Linked DNA regions of Homo sapiens: all the other regions are reported to be linked to region 1. The links are microRNA targets in miRTarBase. Many come from high-throughput screens and were not tested one by one. Region 1 holds a microRNA gene; each other region holds the end of a gene's coding sequence.

Region 1 (8,067 bases):
TGGCGGGGAGCTCGTGTTTGCTTGTGTGTGTGTGGGGGGGTGTGTGTGTACACGCGCGTGGGCAGGGTCCCTCTGCGCTTTCCTTTTTAAGTGCCTCTCGGTGGTGAGGCTTTGGGCGGGTGAGACTTTCCCGACCTCGCTCCCGGCCCCACTTAAGCCGGGTTCGAGCTGGGAGACGCAGTCCCTTCAGTGCGCCCCAAATCCTCTGGCTTCAGGTGGCCCGGCGCGGGGGCCCAGCACGACGCACCGCGCCGAGAACCGGGTTCTCCGTGCGCTGCGCCAGTAGCCCTGGGAGCGCGGCGGCCGCGGGGCACCGGCCGAGGGCTCTGCCGAGCGCCGCCGGGAGCTCCTCCCGGACCGCTGAGGCTCGGGCGGCGGGCGCGGAGGTTGGCCTCGCCTGGAGGGGCGGGCCCGCGAGGGGCGGGGGGCTGTGGAGGAGGGGAGGGCGCGCAAGCCCTTTCGCCGCCTGCCGCGGGAGGGGCCTCGGCGCTCACGTGACTCCGAGGGGCTGGAAGAAAAACAGAGCCTGTCTGCGGTGGAGTCTCATTATATTCAAATATTCCTTTTAGGAGCCATTCCGTAGTGCCATCCCGAGCAACGCACTGCTGCAGCTTCCCTGAGCCTTTCCAGCAAGTTTGTTCAAGATTGGCTGTCAAGAATCATGGACTGTTATTATATGCCTTGTTTTCTGTCAGTGAGTAGACACCTCTTCCTTCCCCCTCCCCGGAATTCACTCTGCCCTCACCACCCCTGCTCGCCGGCTGTCCCTTCCGTCGGACCTCCTTTACAATATCCACACTCTGCTCCCTGGCAGCACTGTCGCTCCCTTCTTGGCCCGGCAGCCGGGGCGCTGGAAGCGTACGGGTTCCTTTTAAAGTGCTGCTAGCGCGCACTCGCCCTCTCAGCGTTGCAAGAAAGGGGAGCGCGAGGGAGCTAAAGAGATGAAAGCCCGGGGTTGTACCTTGAGGGCTAACCACTCCCTTCCCCTATCCAACTTGTCTGGGAGAGCCCCCAGTGTCTCCGTGGCGCGTTCCCACTCTCTTGTCAAAACTCACAGAGGTCTCTCCGGAATCGTCTCTCACCCCTTCCCTGGGGATGAGCGGGCACGATCAGGCACTTTTGGCTGAATATTTCAAACTCATCGGCCACAATAAAATAAGCCCTCAAGCCACCCGGTTAGCTCCCAGACCACCTTCTCGGCTTCTGGACCCTGTCGCCCTCTGTCTTCGCCCAGCCCCTGCCTCTCACTTTCCCTCCCTCTGGCTCTGAACCAACTGGAAGTTGTGAAAGTTGGGCTCTGAGGGTGGAGGAAAAGGGAGAGAAGCTGAAGGTCTAAAGTGGAGAGCAATGCCATTTTAATTCTCCCTCCCCCACCCCTTTTCACCCCCTCAATGTTAACTGTTTATCCTTCAAGAAGCCACGCTGAGATCATGGCCCAGATAGCAGTTAGGACAAAAAAAGATTAACAGGATGGAGGCTATCTGATTTGGGGTTATTTGACTGTAAACAAGTTAGACCAAGTAATTACAGGGCAATTCTTACTTTCAGGCCGTGCATGGCTGCAGCTGGTGGGTGGGCGGGTGGTGTGAGGGAGAAGACACAAACTTGATCTTTCTGACCTGCTTTCCATCTTGCCCCTCCATTTCTAGCCCTAAATGCATATGCAGACACATCTCTATTTCTCCCTATTTATTGGTGTTTATTTATTCTTTAACCTTCCACTCCCCTCCCCCTCCCCAGAGACACCATGATTCCTGGTAACCGAATGCTGATGGTCGTTTTATTATGCCAAGTCCTGCTAGGAGGCGCGAGCCATGCTAGTTTGATACCTGAGACGGGGAAGAAAAAAGTCGCCGAGATTCAGGGCCACGCGGGAGGACGCCGCTCAGGGCAGAGCCATGAGCTCCTGCGGGACTTCGAGGCGACACTTCTGCAGATGTTTGGGCTGCGCCGCCGCCCGCAGCCTAGCAAGAGTGCCGTCATTCCGGACTACATGCGGGATCTTTACCGGCTTCAGTCTGGGGAGGAGGAGGAAGAGCAGATCCACAGCACTGGTCTTGAGTATCCTGAGCGCCCGGCCAGCCGGGCCAACACCGTGAGGAGCTTCCACCACGAAGGTCAGTCTCTTCCCCCAGTCTGCGTGGGGGAGGGCTGGTGGGACTGGCTAGAGGGGCAGTGAAAGCCCTGGGGAAGAAGAGTTCGGGTTACATCAAAGCCCCAGTCCAGGAGGCTGAGGAACAGAGCTGCTTACCTCCAAGAATTTGCAGAGCTGCCGCCGAACTTATTTTTTGGAGACAGAGGGGGAGGTGTTCAGGGGAAGGGGAATGACAGCACTCAGACGTGGGCTAGCCCCAGCGGTGTGTTTTTGCTATATCAAAGCCTTTTCTGCTAGGTTTTCTGCCCGTTTTTTTCAAAGCACCTACTGAATTTAATATTACAGCTGTGTGTTTGTCGGGTTTATTCAATAGGGGCCTTGTAATCCGATCTGAATGTTTCCTAGCGGATGTTTCTTTTCCAAAGTAAATCTGAGTTATTAATCCACCAGCATCATTACTGTGTTGGAATTTATTTTCCCCTCTGTAACATGATCAACAAGGCATGCTCTGTGTTTCCAAGATCGCTGGGGAAATGTTTAGTAACATACTCAATAGTGGAAGAGGGAGAGGGTGGTTGTCTGCATGTTTCCTCCTGCCTGTGCTCTGTTGGCCCCTCTTTTTCTTTACAACCACTTGTAAAGAAAACTGTGGACACAAAGCCAAGGTGGGGGGTTTAAAAGAGGAGTCTGATTGTGGTGCCATAGAGGAGTTGACACATAGAAATTATTAGACATATCAAGGAGGCTGGATATAGTTTCTGTCTTTGGTGCTTGAGAAATGCTAGCTACATTTTGCTGGTTTGTTAGCTGCCCCACTTATCTGCTCCTTCAAATTAAGGGGTATGCTTATTTTCCCCCAGTAGGTTTCCCCTGCATAAGCAGAATTCACCATTCATTGCCCAACCCTGAGCTATCTCTTGACTCTTCCATCTTTGAAAAAAGTTCATATGCTTTTTCTTTTCCCCTTCCTTCCTAACTGTGCCTAGAACATCTGGAGAACATCCCAGGGACCAGTGAAAACTCTGCTTTTCGTTTCCTCTTTAACCTCAGCAGCATCCCTGAGAACGAGGTGATCTCCTCTGCAGAGCTTCGGCTCTTCCGGGAGCAGGTGGACCAGGGCCCTGATTGGGAAAGGGGCTTCCACCGTATAAACATTTATGAGGTTATGAAGCCCCCAGCAGAAGTGGTGCCTGGGCACCTCATCACACGACTACTGGACACGAGACTGGTCCACCACAATGTGACACGGTGGGAAACTTTTGATGTGAGCCCTGCGGTCCTTCGCTGGACCCGGGAGAAGCAGCCAAACTATGGGCTAGCCATTGAGGTGACTCACCTCCATCAGACTCGGACCCACCAGGGCCAGCATGTCAGGATTAGCCGATCGTTACCTCAAGGGAGTGGGAATTGGGCCCAGCTCCGGCCCCTCCTGGTCACCTTTGGCCATGATGGCCGGGGCCATGCCTTGACCCGACGCCGGAGGGCCAAGCGTAGCCCTAAGCATCACTCACAGCGGGCCAGGAAGAAGAATAAGAACTGCCGGCGCCACTCGCTCTATGTGGACTTCAGCGATGTGGGCTGGAATGACTGGATTGTGGCCCCACCAGGCTACCAGGCCTTCTACTGCCATGGGGACTGCCCCTTTCCACTGGCTGACCACCTCAACTCAACCAACCATGCCATTGTGCAGACCCTGGTCAATTCTGTCAATTCCAGTATCCCCAAAGCCTGTTGTGTGCCCACTGAACTGAGTGCCATCTCCATGCTGTACCTGGATGAGTATGATAAGGTGGTACTGAAAAATTATCAGGAGATGGTAGTAGAGGGATGTGGGTGCCGCTGAGATCAGGCAGTCCTTGAGGATAGACAGATATACACACCACACACACACACCACATACACCACACACACACGTTCCCATCCACTCACCCACACACTACACAGACTGCTTCCTTATAGCTGGACTTTTATTTAAAAAAAAAAAAAAAAAAGGAAAAAATCCCTAAACATTCACCTTGACCTTATTTATGACTTTACGTGCAAATGTTTTGACCATATTGATCATATATTTTGACAAAATATATTTATAACTACGTATTAAAAGAAAAAAATAAAATGAGTCATTATTTTAAAGGTAAATCATGATTTTTTTTTTCTCCTTAATCCTTTCTCTTTTCCTTCGGGCTCATCTCTTTTGAATGAGGCTTTTTTCTGTTCAGGTGAGTTGGAGGCTGGATGGAAGTCAAAAGGTGGTACCTGGAGGTGGTTAAGTTGTAGGGACAGGAAGTAAACTGTTGGCAGAGAGAGATGGTAATTGCCAGCATGAATTGTTTTCTATTTCTATTTAATGTTAACAAGGATGCAGTATCCTCTCCCATCTGGATGACACATGCCTTGGAGAAACACTGGGATGAAAGGAGTGTAGGTCAGATTAAAGACTTCATTTCAGGCCCCTTGTACATCTTCTGTTTCACTCACCTGTTGAGGTGTATCACAGCTGAGCGTGATGAGGTCTCAACCCTAGAAAAATGATACCCACCTCTGCTTTCATGATACCTCAGGGTATCTCCAGTTATTACAGGTACCAATGTGATATTTCCAAATCAAAACTAATTTGTACACTAACATCATAATGTGTGTGTGAAGGCATGTTTTTAAACTTATTTTTTTTTTCTCCAGGTAGGACTCTTTTGTTTTTTCTTTTGTCTTTTTTTTTTTTTGAAACAAGTTCTCTCTTTGTTGCCCCAGGCTGGTCTTGAACTCCTGGGCTCAAGCAATCTTCTCATTTCGGCCTCTTTGGGATTACAGGCATGCACTGCTATTTTGTCTTTTTTTTTTTTTTTTGTAACAAATAATGTACCCTACCTTCAAAAAGTTTGATGACTACTGTTTTAATATGCCACTTGATAGAATTTCCCATTGTTTCTTGACTTTTTCCCTTGTCCTCTTTTCCCAATGTGAAGGCCTTCATCAAGTTTAGGATCCCAACAGATTGGGCTGGGTGGGGGTTGACAATGGGGTCAGATACTAAAGGGTCAGAATTTCTAAGCAGGCACTGTGAAGGTGTCCCACTATTATACAGAAATCTCGAGTCAAATGTCAACTCTCCTTTTCGCTCTGTACTGCCTCCCTCACACCCTCTTCCCTGGACTTGGGCAGAAAGAGGTAGATCTGATGTTCTGTGCTAGGGTTTCTTAAAGGGAAAAGCTCAATTTTTGGACAAAGTTAATAAAAAGGAGGATGCTAATGTACCCTCAGTTAAGGGCTCCCAGCAGGCAGATAAATGCCTTTCTGGAATGACGGGTGTAGGGATTAAGAGGAGCAGAGGAGAGGCCTTTGCTTTTTCTTACTTGCCACCAACAACTAAATTAAGCCTTGAATCTTGGTCTGTGCTGGCTCATTTCATATGTGTGCTGAGAAAATTCACACATATGAAGTGAGCCAGCACAGACCAAGATCCCTTTGGATCCCTTTGGAGCAGAAACATTTAGTGTCTTTGTATGTTCTCTGTGGGGAAGGCTGATAGCGCATTTCTCCATCATGAAGGTGTAGATATGAGCGGTAGTATTGCTGTTGCTGGTGGTGTGTGCACCCAAAGAATGTGTGTGGTGCACACTCCTGGCGTTTGCATTTTTCTAGGTGGGGTGTGCACCCTTGCATTCTTGTACACACTTTCTTACATACGCTCCTGGGAGTGGAGTGGGTGAAGCAGGATTCATTTTTGTTTTTAATTACTGAAGTCCTACACTCCTCCAAAAGGAGCAGCTTAGTGGAAACCAATAAAAATTGAAGCGGGGTGGTTGCCAAAACCCCAGCTCCCCGGAGAGCGCAGGTGGAGAGAAGACATCAGAGCCCCAGGCAAAGGCAGCAAGACTACACAGTTCCTCCAAAACTCCCCGCAAAAAGGGATCCTTCCCCCACCCCTCCAACCCCCCAGGTCGCTGCCCCTTTGATTAATGGTATGGAGCTCAAATAAATCATTTAGGGAAGCCCCTTATAGATTGCCCTCAGGCAGCCTCATTTTGTTTTGCCCAATTTCTAGCAACTTTCTGAAACGTCGATGTCATTGAAAAGGAACCAGTAGATCTCCAGTACTTGAACAAATTATCCTAGGGCCAGTACTGAGCCCTGTGGCTGTCCAGTTCTAGCAACCAGCCCCTTCCTCCATCCTCCCCGCTCCTACTGGCTTATTTTCAGGAATGGATAATGTTGTTTATTTGTTCAGCCAAATATTTGGTCTGGGGAATTTACCGTGAAATTCTGTGAATTGCATATACCTAGTTAACAAAATAGTCCTAATGCCACAAATGTTAGCATGGAAAACAAAGAGCTATGGCCAGCGTTAACTCTTTAAATTCTGTTTGAAAGCTTAGTCCTGAGACCCGGGGAGATTAAAAAAAAAATAAAAAAAATTGGATGTGTGTGATTTAGGTTTCGGCATTTACTATTTTTGCCTAATATTCAGTTCAGTACCTGACGGAAGTCGTAGGGTGATTCTCGGCGTTGCTTTTGGATCAAGCCTACCATTTCACCCCATTCATGTTTTTTTTTTTTTTTTTTCTCCAGAGTAATGTTCCTATTACTGAAAGAAAGATGGGGAGGGAAGCTCGCCCTTGAGGAGTTCGGCAAAGTCGTAACCACATCAGAGGAGCTGCTTGGTCGATCCCTACCCAACCCTTAAACTGGAACCGGCTTCCTAGGAGCTTAAAAAAAAAAAAAAAAGGTTGGGGGGGTGTGGAGTGGGACGCATCAAACATTCCCCTGCTTTCGTTGCATAATTCGCCCAGAACCTGCCAGGTGACCTGCTGACTTTGTTTTCTGTCTTGACCGTGCTTCGTTCCACACCCCCCTCGCCGCCGGGCAGCGCCACACTGAGAGGGCTCGGCGCGTCCGCGGCGCGGGCAGACCCCAGTAGTCACCCGGCCTTGGACTGGCGTCAAGATCCAGCCCCGCCGACCCCGCCTCCCGCCCGCTCTGGAGCTCCCAGGCCCGGCGGCGGCGGGGGCACCAGGGGGCGTCCTCCCTGCGGGGGACCAGGGGGACCGTGCACCTGGCGACGGCCCGCGGGAGCCGCGCGGCAGGCGGCCACCCCTCCCCATCCCCGCCGACCGCGGACTGCGGGTCCCCCAGCCCGGGCCCGAGAGCCGGCCCGCTCATCCGCCCTCGGGGACCCAGGCCTCAGGTGAAGCTCTGCAGACACAGACGGATCTGATTAGCGCTCGCTGGTCCTTGGGGCGGTCGCTCTGCAGATTTCATGCGAAATGGGGTCAAAAGGCCGCGCAGAAGCGTGGAGTCTGCAGGGGAAGGCTCCCCGGGGTGGAGGGGCTTAAGAGGGGTCGAGACCTTTAGGGGTTTTCTGTAGGGGGCAGAGAGCGGGAATTAGGGAGCGAGGCTCTCCTGCCTCCGAGCTCACAGTGGGCCTGCATATGGGGGTGACTCAATGGGAGCGGGGACGTGGGCGAGTGGGAAACAGGCCCGCTGGGTGAGGGTCGGACCTGCAGACTGGCCCTGAAGGCTGAGCCGCTGTCTTGGGCCCCTTGGGGACACGGAGAGCCCTGGGTCCCAGCTGAACTGCAGCCAGGGCCCCGCTCCCCAACAGTCGGGGGACGGAGGTGAACGGGAGAGGCCACGGGTGTGCAAGAGTGGAGCTGGACGATTGCTTTCAGAAATGAGATGCCAAGCCATGATACATAATGACAGCACCTCAGCTGACCTCCGCAGGGCCTCTGGACCGGGGACTCACCGTGCCCGCCCCCACTCCCTCTCCAAAGGTGAGCCAGGAGCATAAAGCTTATCCCAGGCCCAGGTCTCCGAACTATTTGTCATCAAAGATACTTTTGCTTCAACACAAAACCAATTTTACAAACTATTCACATACTCTCTTTTGAAAAGGAAAAGAATAATGCAAATGCAACGTTGGTGACCTTACATTACCTGGGAATCAGAAGGTTATTAGTATTCCCTAGGGGAAT
Region 2 (7,000 bases), not on the chromosome of region 1:
AGCGTGGCAGCGGAGGCCCTCGAAGCCCTGGTCCCCTGCCTCACGGTGACCAGCAAGCCCGAGGGCTCCACAGGCAGAAGGCGGACCCAGGAGGGCAGGGAAGCCCCGGGTGAGGAAGCGGAGAGGCCCGGGCCTGCGCGCTGGAGTGCCAGGGGCCACCCTGTCCGGGCAGGTGCGGTCCTCAGGGCCGCCTCCACCCCGCACTGGGCTGCCAGCCTGTCCTTCGCGCACTCCCACCGGACCCGTCCGTCCACCGGCCTCGGCCTTCTGATCCGCTCCGCCCGCCCCGCTCTTGCCCCTTAGAGTCACAGCGATCTATCTGAGCTACGGCACCGGGCACAGGCGGAGCTGGAGGACTCGGGGCCTTCCCATGGGGCGGGGGGCCGGGGACGGGGGAAGGCACCGGTGGGCCCTGGAACCAGCTCCCCTGGGATCCTCCGCGCAGGTCCCCTCCCTCTCACTCCAGAGTCCTGAGGCCTCCTACTGTGAGGGAGGAGAACAGCCGGATTCTCCTCCTGAATCTGGGGGGGCGGGGGCTTGACCAGGACCCAGGATCAGCCTGGAGAGAACTGGGGGCGACGCGGGGGTCCTGCCCCCCACGCAGTCCGCGGGCGAGAGCGACGCCGGGAGCGGACCGAGGGGCGGCCGGGAGGCTGGCCCCGCCCCGCGGACCCCGCGCGGGTCCCCAGACGGGGGGTGGCGCTGCGGGCGCGGGCGGGCGCCGCGCGCACTGCGGTCCCCGCGCCTCCGCCGCAGAGCGCGCCACGCTCCGCACGCACCTGCCGCCGTCGCCGCCGTGCCGAAACCCGCGCCCCGCGCCCCACGCCCGCGCCCGCGCCCCTCGGTGCCGCCCGGGCCCCGCCATCGCCTGAGGTCGCTGCGGCCGCCGCCGGAGCCGCCGGAGCCCCCCGAGCTGCCGGGCCGAGGCGCGGGCGCCGCGTCCGGGCCTGCCTTTGAGACAACCTCTGCGGCGGCGGCGCGCGGCCGGGACGCCAGGCTGGGGCAGGTGAGCGCAGGGGGCGGGGGCCGGGGGCGGACTCAGCGCCCCTCCCCACGCGACGGGGGTCGGCCCTCGGGAAGGTGCGTCTGGCCTTGGAGGCGGGGACCGGGGAGGGGGTTGGGTTCTGAGGCCCGCGGAGGTCGGGATCCCACGGCTGAGGTCAGGGTCAGAGGTCGGGCGCCCGGTCCTTTGTGCAGGGCGAGGGCTAGGGTGGGGGTGGCCGGGGCACTGCCCTCATGCCGTCTCTCACCTGCAGCTCAGGCCTGGCCCAGGCCTCGCCTCTGCTCCTGCCGCGGAGCCTGCCGCCCCGGTCCTCCTGCAGCCAGCGCTTCGGCTAGCTGCCTTCCCTGGGCGCCCTGTCCTGGAGCCATGGGGCCCACCCAGCCCCTGCCTGCCCCGATGTCCCGGCCCGCGGCCTGCTGACCTCGGCTGCAGGGGGAGCCCCCCCCGCGCCCCCTCGCCAGCCTCAGCAGCCAGAGACCCTGGGTGAGACCCTGGGCCAGACCCCCAGCCCAGGGCAGCCTCCCACCCCTCCCTGCCCCCGCCTGCCTCCCCCTCCCCCACCCCTTCCTCCTCCTCCCAGGACTGGACCAGAGAAGCCACTGTGGCCACTGGGGGGGGCCCTGCACCCCCAACTCTCGCCGGCTGTCCCTAGGAGTCCACGGGCCGTCCGGGGCCCCCCCCAGGCCTGGCGGGACCAGGATGCTGCCCTGTCACCTGCCCCCCAGCCCCACACAACGCCCCCACCCACCCGAACATCCAGTCTGACTGGAGACAGCCGGATGCCCTCTGACCCCGGGCCCGAGGCGGGCAGTGGCTGGCCGGGCCTCCTCATGTCCTGCCTGAAGGGTCCCCATGTCATCCTCAAGATGGAGGCCATGAAGATTGTCCACCCTGAAAAGTTCCCTGAGCTACCGGCTGCCCCCTGCTTCCCGCCTGCTCCCCGGCCCACCCCAACTCTGGCACCCAAGCGTGCCTGGCCCTCAGACACAGAGATCATTGTCAACCAGGCCTGTGGGGGGGACATGCCTGCCTTGGAAGGGGCACCCCATACCCCGCCACTGCCACGGCGGCCCCGTAAGGGAAGCTCGGAGCTGGGCTTTCCCCGCGTGGCCCCAGAGGATGAGGTCATTGTGAATCAGTACGTGATTCGGCCTGGCCCCTCGGCCTCGGCGGCTTCTTCGGCGGCGGCAGGCGAGCCCCTGGAGTGCCCCACCTGTGGGCACTCCTACAATGTCACCCAGCGGAGGCCCCGCGTGCTGTCCTGCCTGCACTCTGTGTGTGAGCAGTGCCTGCAGATTCTCTACGAGTCCTGCCCCAAGTACAAGTTCATCTCCTGCCCCACCTGCCGCCGTGAGACTGTGCTCTTCACCGACTACGGCCTGGCCGCGCTGGCTGTCAACACGTCCATCCTGAGCCGCCTGCCGCCTGAGGCGCTGACGGCCCCATCCGGGGGTCAGTGGGGGGCTGAGCCCGAGGGCAGCTGCTACCAGACCTTCCGGCAGTACTGTGGGGCCGCGTGCACCTGCCACGTGCGGAACCCACTGTCCGCCTGCTCCATCATGTAGTAGCGCCTGCCTGCCCGCCACTGCCCGCTGAGCCTCGCTCGCTGCTTCTTCAGGGACCCGGCCCTGCCCTGCCGCCCGCTGACCCTTCCTTCCCCACCATGGCTTCCGGCCCCACCCCGAGTGGCATTGTCGCTGCAGCCAACTTTGCCATTAAAACTCTTTGCCAAAGTTTGCACCTGTTCCTGGACTGAAGCTTGCTCCTGTGGGCTGTGCTCAGGCCTGGGCCTAGGGTGGGCACCCAGGGCTGCAACCCAGAGAGGGCCCAGCTTGGAGCTGCCAGAGAGAGGCCCAGCGCTGCTCGGGTTGGGCCTGCCCTGCGCACTGGGGGCCAGGCTGGGCTGTGCATGCAGCTCAGGAGGGCCGGGTGGGCTGTGTCGGTGCAAACCCCCACACGTACAGAGTGGGCTGCTTGTGTGCGCCTGGCAGGACTACCTGGTGGGTGTGCAGAGACACCCCAGCTGGGCAGAGAGGACATTTTCAATGGTGTGGGGGTGCCTGTGTGGGGGACAACTCAGTTGATTTCCCTCCTGGTGCCCATCTGGACCTGAGCACCCACCTGGGTCTTCCAGGGTTGTGTGGGAGTAGCCTTTGGGCATGTGCAGGAGTTAGGGACAAAGACTGGCTGAAATGGTGGTAGGGGAATAAGGACCCAGCGCCTCCTGTCTGGCACCTGGACCACTTGGGTGGGAGGAAGAGCCCGCCCCAGGCTGGGTGCGGTGTCTCACGCCTGTAATCCCAGCACTTTGGGAGGCCAAGGCGGATGGATCACCTGAGGTCAGGAGTTCAAAACCAGGCTGGCCAACGTGGTGAAACCTCTTCTCTACTAAAAATACAAAAAAAATTATCCAGGTGTGGTGGTGCATGTCTGTAATCCCAGCTATTCAGGAGGGTGAGGCAAAAGAATTGCTTGAACTCGGGAGGTGGAGGTTGCAGTGAGCAGAGATCGTGCCACTGCACTCTAGCCTGAGTGACTAAGTGACGCTCTGTCTCAAAAAAAAAAAAAAAAAAAAAAAGCCCGCCCAGATGGTGAAGATGGGGTAACAAAGACAAGTAGTAACAATGGCATCCCCAGGAGCTGGTTTATTGAAAGCTGCTTCACGTTCCAGGATCAGTCCTCCATCTCTCGCTGGGCCACCTGATGTCTCCATCCCAGGTGTGGTGACATGAGGGTGTGCAGGGGCAGAGCTTATGTTCCAAGGCCTGGGTGGGCCCTTGTCCCCTGCAACACAGGCCAGCGCCAACCCCCACCTGGTCTGGGCCTGATCAAGTGGGGAGAGGAGCCTTTGCAGGCTGAATTTTCGCAGCATGGACCCCTCCCCCGGCTGGCCTGACCTTCAGGGACACACACTGGCCCTTATCTGAACACAGGGTGGGCGGAGTCCCTGCCCTCTCCAAGGAACTGACTCACTGCTGTATCTCTGTTTGCTTTCATGCCTGCTGTGCTCAGCTGGCCCTCGGAGGGGAAGTGTGGCCGGCGTCAGCCCGTGGCCAGTACGGTGCCCGTCTGCCGCAGGGTGAATGGGGTCCTGCTCACAGACTTTCCTGCTGGGCTGGCCTCCTCCAGGAGCTGTCCTTGGGCGCTGGTGTCCTTGGGTTCAGCTAGTGTCTGGGCAGCAGTGCAGCCATGGACTCTGGCAGGGTCAGGCCTCTGGGTAGCCCTGGTTGTGGGTTCAGCAATGGGAGGTCTTGATTGAAGGCCACTGCCCTGGACCCAACCTTGGGTTTTTCCAGCCTGGTCATCAGGCCTCACAGCACCCAGGCATGGGGACGTGGGCCAGTCTGGGCCCCCTGGCCTGTTGGCGGCGGGGCTGTCCTGGGCTCTGCTCAGCGGCCAGAGCGGTCCAGGAGCACGAAGAGCAGTCCCAGCAGCAGGAGCGGCGTGAAGACCAGCAGCAGCCCCAGAAGCTCAAGGGCCAGCAGGCTCAGCAGCGCCAGGCGGCGGGCACAGGGTCCCCGCTCCCGCAGGGTCCAGAGCCGGGCACCCAGGCAGGGTGGACAGGGCAGGAAGGGCAGGCAGCCCCGGCCGCCCACGGGCCCTGCCAGGAAGCGCAGCTGGTAGCGGTGCTCCAGGGAGCCCCAGGGCCCAGGGTTGCGGTGATAGGATGCAGGGGCCTCTCGGCGGGGCTGGCGTGAGGGCCCGTCGGCCTGTAGCAGCTCCTCCTGTAGCCGGCAGATCTCCCATTCCAGCACGGGCGTCTTCTGGCGGCACAGCGGGCAGCGCACCCGGCCCAGGTCGGCACTGGAGGCCGAGCCCAGCAGCCTGTGCAGGCAGCCCACACACAGGCCGTGGCTACAGTTCAGCAGGGCCAGGCGGCGCTCTCTGGGCCCGTAGGGCTCTGTGCAGATCGGGCACTCCTCCTCTTCCCCCTGCCCTGCTGCCTGCTCTCTCCCCTCCTCCTTCCAGGTTGGAAGGGCCCAGGCACCCTCCATGGCTTTGGCCCCCAGCAGGGGCTCACTGGCTGTAGTCTCAGCACCTTGGGGGTGCCCAAGGTCATCCCCTTTGCTTGCTGGTGCTTGGCACAGAGGGTCCAGGCACTCAGGGCCCAGAGAGGACCCAGGTGGACTGACAGGCCCAGAGCTGGAGTCGGCCAGGTGGAGGGTGGGGGCCCCAGGGCACAGTTCAGGGGTGGTGGCCCTGGGGCAGGAGTCAGGATAGGAGGACAGGGACCCCAGGGCGGCGACAGGGGCGGCCCTCAGGGAAGGCAGGGTCTGGGCTCCACCAGAGCTCTGGCACTGACCTCCCGGCTGGCTCTCCTCACTGGAAGTGGACTTGACTGGGGCCCCAGCAAGGCCTGCCTGCTCTGGGTGGATCCTGGGCCCACGCGGTGCTGTCCCCAGCCAGATCTGGCTGGAGCCCAGCCTCAGCCATGTTTAGTCCTGTGCCAGCGACCCGCCGACGACAGATCAAGACTCCAAGACAGCGAGGCGGGTGTGAACAGCCACCGAACTCCTCCAACAGGACTTTCCTTCCCAGTGCCTAAAGCCCCTCCCGGGGGTGGGGCTGCACAACCACGCCCCCTCCTGCCGCTCCTCTTTCCGGCAGTCTCGGCTCCCTAGCGGCACGGACGGCTTGGTTCCGCCTTCCCAGCACCTGCCCAGAACGCAGTCCTGGCGATCAGATCTTAGCCGACCCACTATGCCCTTAAGAACGAGGCAGTCAGGGCGCACATCCCATTAGAGGCAGACATAAGAGCTGCAGAGGCCACTCGGGCACAGGCAGCCCAACAAGGGTGCACCGTGGCGCCCACCCATCCAGCACCCAGCACCCAGGGCACCGGGAGGAGCTAGAGGACGCCCACCCATCCAGCACCCAGCACCCAGGGCACCGGGAGGAGCTAGAGGACGCCCATCCATCCAGCACCCAGCACCCAGGGCACCGGGAGGAGCTAGAGGAAGGAAGGAAGCCTGCGCTAGAAGTAACCACCCAGAGGCCACCATTTACTGCAAGGGTTTTTCTGGGACCAGGAGAGGAAGAGGCTGCTCTGGCCTGGGACACCCCCACTGCTCTCAAGGAGCTGGCATCTCAGTGGCCTCTGAGCCCAGCCTGAGCCCTGTGGGAGTGCGGGGGCAGTGACTGGAATGTGCTGCTGGGCAGGCTGCAGCAGCCGAGGTGGCCCCAGGGCAGAGGAGTGCAGCGCAGCCTCATGGGTGCCCTATGCCACCCCTGGTGCTCACTGGGCTGCTGATGCCGTCCTGGGTCACTGCACCGGTGAGGTGGAGCGGCCCAGGCCACCACCTTGACTGGGAAGGGGGTGGGGGGACGAGGACACAGCTCACTGTCAGGGTGGGGGAGCGCAGGGCTGGCTGGGCAGAGGCTGCAGTGGGGTCAGGCTCAAAGGGTGGGATCCAGGGTCAACAGGAGTGCGGCTGTGCTCGGGAGCTGGCTGTTCCCAGAGGACCAGCTGGCTGGTCCGAGAGGATGACGGCTGCTGGCCAGGAGCTCCCTCGTGGATGCCTTCCTGGGCTCCCAGGAGGATGGCTGTCAGAGGGGGCACGGGCAGCCGCGGGCCTCAGGCCCACGTCTCTGTCTGGAAGCGCCGTGTCTGCTGGAGCCTGGCTAGATACGCGGCTGCGTCCGGGCTGCAGAGTCCACCCTCCTCCTGGAAGATGGACATCAGGGCTTCCGAGACGTCCGCTGGCATGGACTTGGCGTTGCTAGAGGGGCAGGTCGCAGAAGGCGCAATGAGGCCTGGCACTCAGGGGCTGGGCCCACTCCTGCTGCACGCAGGCCAGCTCACCCTGCCAGGTAGAAGTATGCACCCTGGCGGTCCAGCAGTTCCCACACAAGCGACCCCAGCTCCCGGAGCCGGTGCTGCACATATACTTTCTGCTCCTGTAGGGCAGAGAACAGGGCTGGGGGCTGAGCCGGAGCTCCCTCCCCTCCTTTCCCAGCCCCTGAGCATACACACCTGTTCCCGGGAGAAGGCAGGGA
Region 3 (7,000 bases), not on the chromosome of region 1:
TATGGCAAATGTAGCACAGGGCCCATGATGGCTTTGGCCTTGAGCACGGTGGCTTTGACTGGAACAAAAGGCCGGGGAGCATGCTTGCTGTGGAGACGGCCTCAGCTCCTCACTCTGCAGAGCTTGGCCTTTCCTGCCATTTGTTTGGCCATTGCTGGTAGTGAGAAGCCTCTCGAGCCCAACAAACCAGTGTTGTGTGGTTGTTCATGTGCTTGATGGCTCTGAGTAAATGTGAAAGCTTGAACTTTGTGAGCTAAAAATACTGGTAGCTATCATTAAGTCCTCTGAGGCCTTTCTTTTTCTTCCTTTGAGAGGTACTTCATTCATATGATGTTAATGGTCTCTGGACTGAACTCTTCACGGTCTCCTTATAGGGAAGTATTTGTTCCCAGAGCAAAATTTAACCTGTAAGTTTCTTAATGGCAGGTGGCCGTTTGCTGAGTGATTCCTATGCCAGGATATCAATGAAGAATCCAGGGGCTGGTCGCAGGGTGTCACCTGAGTTACTGTTGTTTGGGTTTTCTTCTTCTCATATAGGAAAAATAAAATAATAGTAGCACATCAGAAAGTATGGCAGGGTTTTCCTTGGAGTCTCATGCCTTGTATTAAGGACTGTCTTCAGGGTCATTGGGATGAATATGTCTAGTTTCCAGAGTCACTGCAGTGGTGAGAGTGGTGGTGGGGAATCCTTGTGGTGCCTTAGGTCTGTCTTGGGAGAGGGGAGCAGAGTGTACTGCACCCTGAGGAGAACCCGGATTTCAGGTGTTAAGATCGAGATTTGTTCTTCCACAGACTAAGAGCTGGCTCAGGGCAGGAGCTGGTCTGTATGGTGTGTCCCCAGCCCCAGCACAATGCCTGCCCCCTAATAGGTTTGCAGAGAACATTAATGTCCAATTGGGTGGCCTACATCAAGTTTCAGACGGTGGAAACCCTTTTTGACAAAGCAAAGCAAGCTTAAAGCAGTCTCAGATGTTCAGATCTGTACATATTTCATTCTTTCTATTTTTGATTTTTCTCTAGTGACAAGAAAAGGAAGTTAGAGGCCAAACAAGAACCCAAACAGAGCAAGAAGTTGAAGAACAGAGAGACAAAGAACAAAAAAGATATGAAACTGAAGCGGAAGAAATAGTGAAGAGAAACTCGGGCATCTGTGTTTGATCATGGGAAGATACTCTCACTAACTGAACCCTCTCTGGCTGGACTGTTAAAAGCAACGAGAGGCCCCGGCACACCTGGAAGCTGGCCGCGAATTCGGCCTCTGGGCCTGTGTGTCTGTGAGCTCAACCTGGCTAAAGGCAGAGTCACTCCCAAATGGGTCTCTTTAGAACTTGATGGCTGGGCACTGCCATCTCTAGAATTGCCACGAGTCTCTCTCTTCCTGCCCAGTCCAGGGCCCTCCTTTCCTATAAGTTCATATTTTGCTTTGAGCCAGCTTTTTAGTCTCATTCCCACACATGTGGAAGCCACGTTGCCTCTCGACCGCCTGAGGCCCTTAAGTACATCGCTTTCTGGTGGTGCCCAGGAGGCTGCTGCTGGGCCGCTGGGTCTCTCTTTGTGGACTTGTACCTGGAGCAGGAGGAACTCCAGTCCGTCCCGGCATCCATGGCAGCCCGCGGTTAGGTGCGCCAGGGTTTGCTGATGTTGTCTTGTGCTGTTCCACTCTTGGCTCCAGCAGACCCACTGTCCCAGAAAAGCCTGATCCTGTAGTTTATGTAGAATGCCACATCTGCGTCCTCAAGACCTGTTTCATCCATTTGGGAAAAGATGTTGGGAAAGGCCACTTTGCTCGCAGGGGTGAGGGGAAGGATAGAGAATCTATTTTTAATAAATAACATTCTAGAAAGATCAGCTGCCTGTGAGTGTTCTGAAATCCACGCACCTGGACGTTTCTTCTGGTGGGTCTTGGCTGCCTGGTGGAATTTGGAAGGTGTTGGTATCAAGGTCAAAGGTGAGCAGTGTGTCTAGGGCTTCCCAGCCCAGGAGTCTGCGGGAGAAGTGGCAGGTGGCTATGGTCACCTCGAGGGGCTTGGTGTGGTGGCTGGAAGCCAGCTAGAACTGCCTCATTTCCTTCCCAGCTCCTTCCAGGTCACTTGGTCCCTTCCATTTGTTGGGAACAGAGGTAACCTGGTGGCTTTACACATACTTTGGTATGTTTGTTTAATGGTATCCAGGCTAATGAGTCTGCAGCCCCGATATGTTGTCTAGGTTCAGAGAAGGACAGGGAAGGAAACGGTAACTTCTCAGCCTAAGGGTATTTCATATACAGCTCCTAGGACTCGTCCCCACAGGGAGAAGAGCAGGTTCTGTATGCGACCCTAGGGCTGCTGAGGCTTGTCACCGAGGCTGTCAGGACATGAGCCTAGGGGTCTTTCGTTTCTTGGGACTGAAGTTTCCTGGCCACAGACCTCTGTTAGGTCTGTAGGAAATTTTGCTGGAGGCAGGGAGGGGGCATGAAAATAATTTTTATTTATTTTCTCAGGTGGGTGCCTGAACCTGCCTTTCAAAGAGGGTTTTCTTAGACCGTGGCCAGAAGCAGAGTCACATGCTCAAATGGTCAGAGCTGGATGGGACTGTGCAAGTTGTCCAGGCATATCATCCTACAGGTAAGGAAGCTTTTGTTTAGTGTCTCTACCCTCAAAGTCTCCCCGGCTGGCTCTGCTTTGGGGTGCAAGGTGAGGGCTCTGGAGGTAGACTGCTCTGCCCTGACGCTCACCGTGGCCTTGGGCAGGTTACTTCATCCTACCTGCCCTTCAGGTCCATTTCTGCAAAATTTGAGTGGTAGGAATAGCACCTCCGTCACGGGACTGTGGTGAGAAGTGGGTGGGGTAGAATGGGAAACGTTTAGAACAGTGCCTGGCACATAGCAAGTGCCTCTGGGTTCTGGGCACTCATCAGATCTAACTAGAGGAGCCGCTCAAGTTCAGTTACATGCCAGCTCTAAGAATACTCAATAAGGACTAGCTGTGGTGTTCTTTTGAAAACAGACAGGGTCTTGCTCTGTTGCCCAAGCTGGAGTGCGGTGGCTCAATCATAGCTCATTGCAGCTTTGAACTCTTGGGCTGAAGCCATTCTCCCACCTCAGCCTTCCAAGCAGCTGGGAAGGTGCTCACCACCACACCTGCCTAATTTTAAAAATTATGTACAGATGGAGTCTCAATATGTTGCCCAGGTTGGTCTGGAACTCTGGCCTCAAGTGATCCGCCTGGGCCTCCCAGAGTATAGGGATTAGAGGCATGAGCCACCACACTTGGCCAGGACTGGCCATGTTATAAAACCACAACCTAAGCTAGAAAAGGAGTCTCCCTTGGCCAGCGAAGAGCATGCATTTTGCAGTCAGACTTGTCTGGCTCTGTATAATATCTCTGTATCCTTGGACAAGGCCTCTTTATTTGCAAAGTGTGTGTTCCTAAACACACGCTTGGGTCTTTGCATTTTATGGTCATGATCTTGGGTTCTCCTTCAAACCTGAAAAGGCATGTCTCCCCCACACCTCACCATCTGGCCCCCAGACAGAGTGACATCTGTAAAGCTTGGCTGTCTTAGGAAATGTCACTTGCGAAATGAATTCAGATAGGCCAGCCATGAGTGCTGTCACCAGAAGGGGAAGAGCCTGAAGAAGCCTGAACAAAGAAGGTTACTAAATGGTCACCCCCCATACCCCCTCGCCAGGCGGGGCTAATGCCGGCCTGCTTCAGTGCTTCCACTGCTCATCTGGCCCGGAAGTCCCGGAGGACTCCGGATGACCAGGAGACGGGACACAAAGGGGGCCGCTGAGGCTGGGAGGTGGGGGAGGGGCAGAAATAAGTGACCGTCACCTTGGAAAAATGTAGACTCATTATCTGAGGCCTGTTACAACACCCGCAGCCATTCTGCAGGCCTGGAGGAGGGGGTGGGGTCGGAAGCCCCTTGGGCTGGAATAGACAATTTCAGGGGATTGCCCCTGAGGGGGCATGCCCTTGATTCTACAAACAATTGGTTCCAGTTAAACATCATCTGGATCCTGCAAAGCGGACTTGAAAGGCAGCCTGAAAGGGAGAGGCCGGGGCTTCCTGCTTGGGCTGGTTCCGTTGAGAAAGCTCTAGCCACCTGGTATCTGGCACGGGGACTAATGTGGAAAAGGATAACTGGCCTTCCAGGCCGAGAGCCTAAAGGAAAGCTTCAGGAGAAGATTTGAATGCAGGAAAGAAACCAGACAGCCTCAAAAAGGACAATCTCAGTGTTAGCCCTGTCGGTGCAGGAGCAGACTGGTACCTGCCACCTCTGGAGAGGTGTTTTCTTTGGAGACGGCTAAGGCGCCAGCTTATGCTTGCCTGTGGACCCACTGGAGCCGAGTGAAATCCCTGTAGATGCAACCCATGCTCACAGCACCTGGGTCCTCAAGGGCTCCAGTAAGAGGGTAACTCCCCCAAGCCTGCCTGTGGCTGCTCATAGCAGGCGGAGCAGGGCAGGCCGTGAGCAGTGGCCCGGAATTAGGAGGTCCAGCTGCCTGGGTAAGTGATCATTTCTGTTTGAGTCCTAGCCCCTTGGAAGCATGTCTGCTTTTTTTTGGTAATTATTTTAATTTTAAATGTTTATTCAAAAATGTATTCCTGCTACCCACAGGCTCCAAGGGGCCCGCTCCCTCCTTCCTACCTCCACTTTCTCTCAACCCCCCACTCACCCTCTCAAGAGAGGAAATGGTGGATCCCTCATCTGGAGCCAGAATGCAACTAGATCTTGCTTTCTAGGCTGGGTACGGACCAAGGCATGTCCTGCAGGGATGGGGGAACTTGTGGGGACGCTGGACACAGACCCATGAAGGGCAGCCACTTTGAATGGCAAGTGCTGGGGACGGACAGCCCGCTCCACCACCGTCTTGGGCCACTGCACAGGAAGATGGTGTGGGGGAGTGCGCCCCCTCCTAGTGGCCCCCAGAGGGCACCATGGGTCTGTGCGGCCACAGGTCCCCAGGCTGGGCCTCGAGCTGCCCTGCGCAGCTCCTGCTGGAATTGGGCTTTGCCAGGGACTGGGATCTTTATGTCGTTCCCCTAACGCCTGAGTCACGGCCGGTCACTGACCCACAGCCACTTTGGTTCAGGTTCTCAGTGACCTTAGGAATTTCTATACCTGTTTCAGGCAGGCAGGCAGGCGACTTTTTTTTTGAGAGAGAGTCTTGCTTTGTTGTCCAGGCTGAGGTGCAGGGGTGATCATAGCTCACTGCAGCCTCGAACCCCTGGGCTCTGTGATCCTCCCACCTCAGCCTCCTGAGCAGCTGGGAATACAGATGTGCACCACTATGCCCAGCTAACTGGCAGGGAATGTTTTAAAAACTTATATTTGTGCCTGAACTTTGCACCTAAAACTACAGCCATAACTCCAGTACACTCTTGGACCTGAGTCGGCGCCTCACCATCTCCCTCCATTACCTCTGCTAGTGGCCTTGTGGTGGTACAGCCAGCTTAGCTTAGCTGGGCCTGGGGGCAGCAGTCACCCAGGGATAGGTCCCTCAAATCAATCAGGCCAGGTCAGGCCTGGGTGAAGGAGGCCCTGCTGCCACTTTGGTGGGCTGTGCCATTTGGGGATGTGCCTCTGAAGACAACCCCCAAAATAGCTCCCACATAAAGGGCCGTGGAGGGGATGGGAGTGGAGATCAGGAAAGCCTGATAGTGTCATATTCCTCAGTCATTTGGTGTCTGTCCAGCTCAGTGGCACACATGTGCTTAATTAAATGTGAGCGTGGGCGGGTGAGGAATGGATCCAGGCTTCGTTTCTGGAGAGAGGCGAGTGCTGGGTGGCCACAGCAATGGCTTTGGTAGGGTCTTGGCTCTGAGAGGGGGGAGACCTGAGTAACAGCGTTAGCTCTGGGATCTCTTCCTGGTCCTAAGGGGCTCCTCCCCAGTTCTGAACTCTGAGTAACCCTCTACCAGGAGCAGTGAGGCCAAGGTCATTGTTAATGAGTGTTTATTGTTAATAAAACCATAGTACATTTACAGTAAGTGACAACATTATTGTACAGTTAAAGTATCATACAATATTACAGCAATAAAATAATGCCTATTTCTTTGTACATCCAGCCAAGCAGCTAGTCAAAATATTTTCCAGAATTGCAAGCCCCTGGGGGCTTTTCAGGGTGACCTGAGTGCCACCTTCTGAAATGCCTGGGGCTTTTGGTGAATAAATAGTTTTTAAGGTGCGGCCAGACAGCTGAAGAAGTTGCACCCAGACAGACTGTGCCTGATGCTGCCCCAGTGTCTGGTCCATAAATATGACAGGTGTCAGGGGAGCCCAGGGCCTGCAGAATTCGAGGGCAAGGCCGTGAGGGGACACAGCAGAAAGGCCTCTTCTCCTGGCCCTTACCTTCCATCAATGCCCTGTCCTTTAATCTCCAAGAGTCACAGTCCCCAGTGGGACCTGTTTGCCCAGCTCTCAATCCTACATTAAAGGAGCCGAGAGACTTGACCAGGGGACTCTGCTTCATCGCCCCCACAAAGGCAACCTAGTCTAGGCCTGAGGTTCCAGAATCCACCCATTTACTTTGGCCCCTAAAACCAGCAGCAAAACAAGAGCTGAGGCCATTCCTACACAGCACCCCATCCCCTACCCCTTGCCCCTCCATGCCAGACTTAGCTCAGAAACCATCAAGCTGGGGAACTGCCCTCTGCTGCTAACTGAGCAAGCTGGTAGTCCTGATGGGAGGGACTCTGGAAGCCCAGGCACCAAAGACAATGGGGGAACTCCGGGTGGCAGCAGTCGTGGTGGCAGGGGGGGGTCCACAGGCCACTGGATGCCCACATTAAGCCTGTCAAACCTTTGAAGAACAAGTTTGGGGATTTGGGCAGCCTTTGCTATGTGACATTTAGGAAGAAAAATACCAGCTTTTGAATTACTGCAGACGACTGGGGGCCTAGGCAGTATGCATTCTATACATTCATAAGGATTCCTGTACCCCCAGGAGCCCCAGTTGGGATGGTCTGAGTTTACTGAGGCCCTAGGGGTGAGTAGAGCTTGGAGGGCCTGGGCG

What was found. The annotated mature microRNA hsa-miR-5580-5p reads UGCUGGCUCAUUUCAUAUGUGU and lies in region 1 at 5,486-5,507, shown strand. An mRNA with a match to its seed (bases 2 to 7 or 8) in the 3' UTR can be bound and repressed. Matches are read on the target gene's strand: a 7mer-m8 pairs with bases 2 to 8, a 7mer-A1 pairs with bases 2 to 7 and ends in A, and an 8mer does both.
Region 2: the mRNA of NDOR1 is a reported target of hsa-miR-5580-5p. Seed matches in the 3' UTR shown: 7mer-A1 at 6,496-6,502, 7mer-m8 at 6,470-6,476, 7mer-m8 at 6,448-6,454, 7mer-m8 at 6,368-6,374 and 7mer-m8 at 5,313-5,319.
Region 3: the mRNA of NAT10 is a reported target of hsa-miR-5580-5p. Seed matches in the 3' UTR shown: 7mer-m8 at 1,427-1,433.

The regions. Positions count from the first base shown.
Region 1 is chr14:53,945,903-53,953,969 of GRCh38, reverse strand. MIR5580 (microRNA 5580) reads left to right here and starts at 5,486; the gene lies at 5,486-5,543. BMP4 (bone morphogenetic protein 4) reads left to right here. Exons shown (of 4, transcript NM_001202.6): 2 at 570-694; 3 at 1,741-2,117; 4 at 3,082-4,234. The coding sequence starts at 1,748. The coding sequence ends at 3,938. RefSeq lists a promoter at 1-214, silencers at 221-310, 361-430, 7,071-7,120 and enhancers at 7,091-7,621, 7,622-8,067.
Region 2 is chr9:137,215,995-137,222,994 of GRCh38, reverse strand. It overlaps NDOR1 (NADPH dependent diflavin oxidoreductase 1), which reads right to left. Exons shown (of 14, transcript NM_014434.4): 12 at 6,978-7,000; 13 at 6,807-6,901; 14 at 3,634-6,723. The coding sequence ends at 6,579. It overlaps RNF208 (ring finger protein 208), which reads left to right and starts at 755. Exons shown (of 2, transcript NM_031297.7): 1 at 755-1,006; 2 at 1,257-2,736. The coding sequence starts at 1,783. The coding sequence ends at 2,568. LOC122513141 (ring finger protein-like) reads right to left here and starts at 5,501. Exons shown (of 1, transcript NM_001395982.1): 1 at 3,634-5,501. The coding sequence starts at 4,998. The coding sequence ends at 4,393. RefSeq lists silencers at 163-212, 1,153-1,202, 5,454-5,631 and enhancers at 3,571-4,310, 4,311-5,050, 5,051-5,790.
Region 3 is chr11:34,145,064-34,152,063 of GRCh38, forward strand. It overlaps NAT10 (N-acetyltransferase 10), which reads left to right. Exons shown (of 29, transcript NM_024662.3): 29 at 1,021-1,845. The coding sequence ends at 1,129. ABTB2 (ankyrin repeat and BTB domain containing 2) reads right to left here. Exons shown (of 17, transcript NM_145804.3): 17 at 5,924-7,000. Among named protein-coding and RNA genes, the nearest start is that of NAT10, 43 kb to the left of the region's middle. RefSeq lists enhancers at 1-147, 378-547, 4,857-5,386.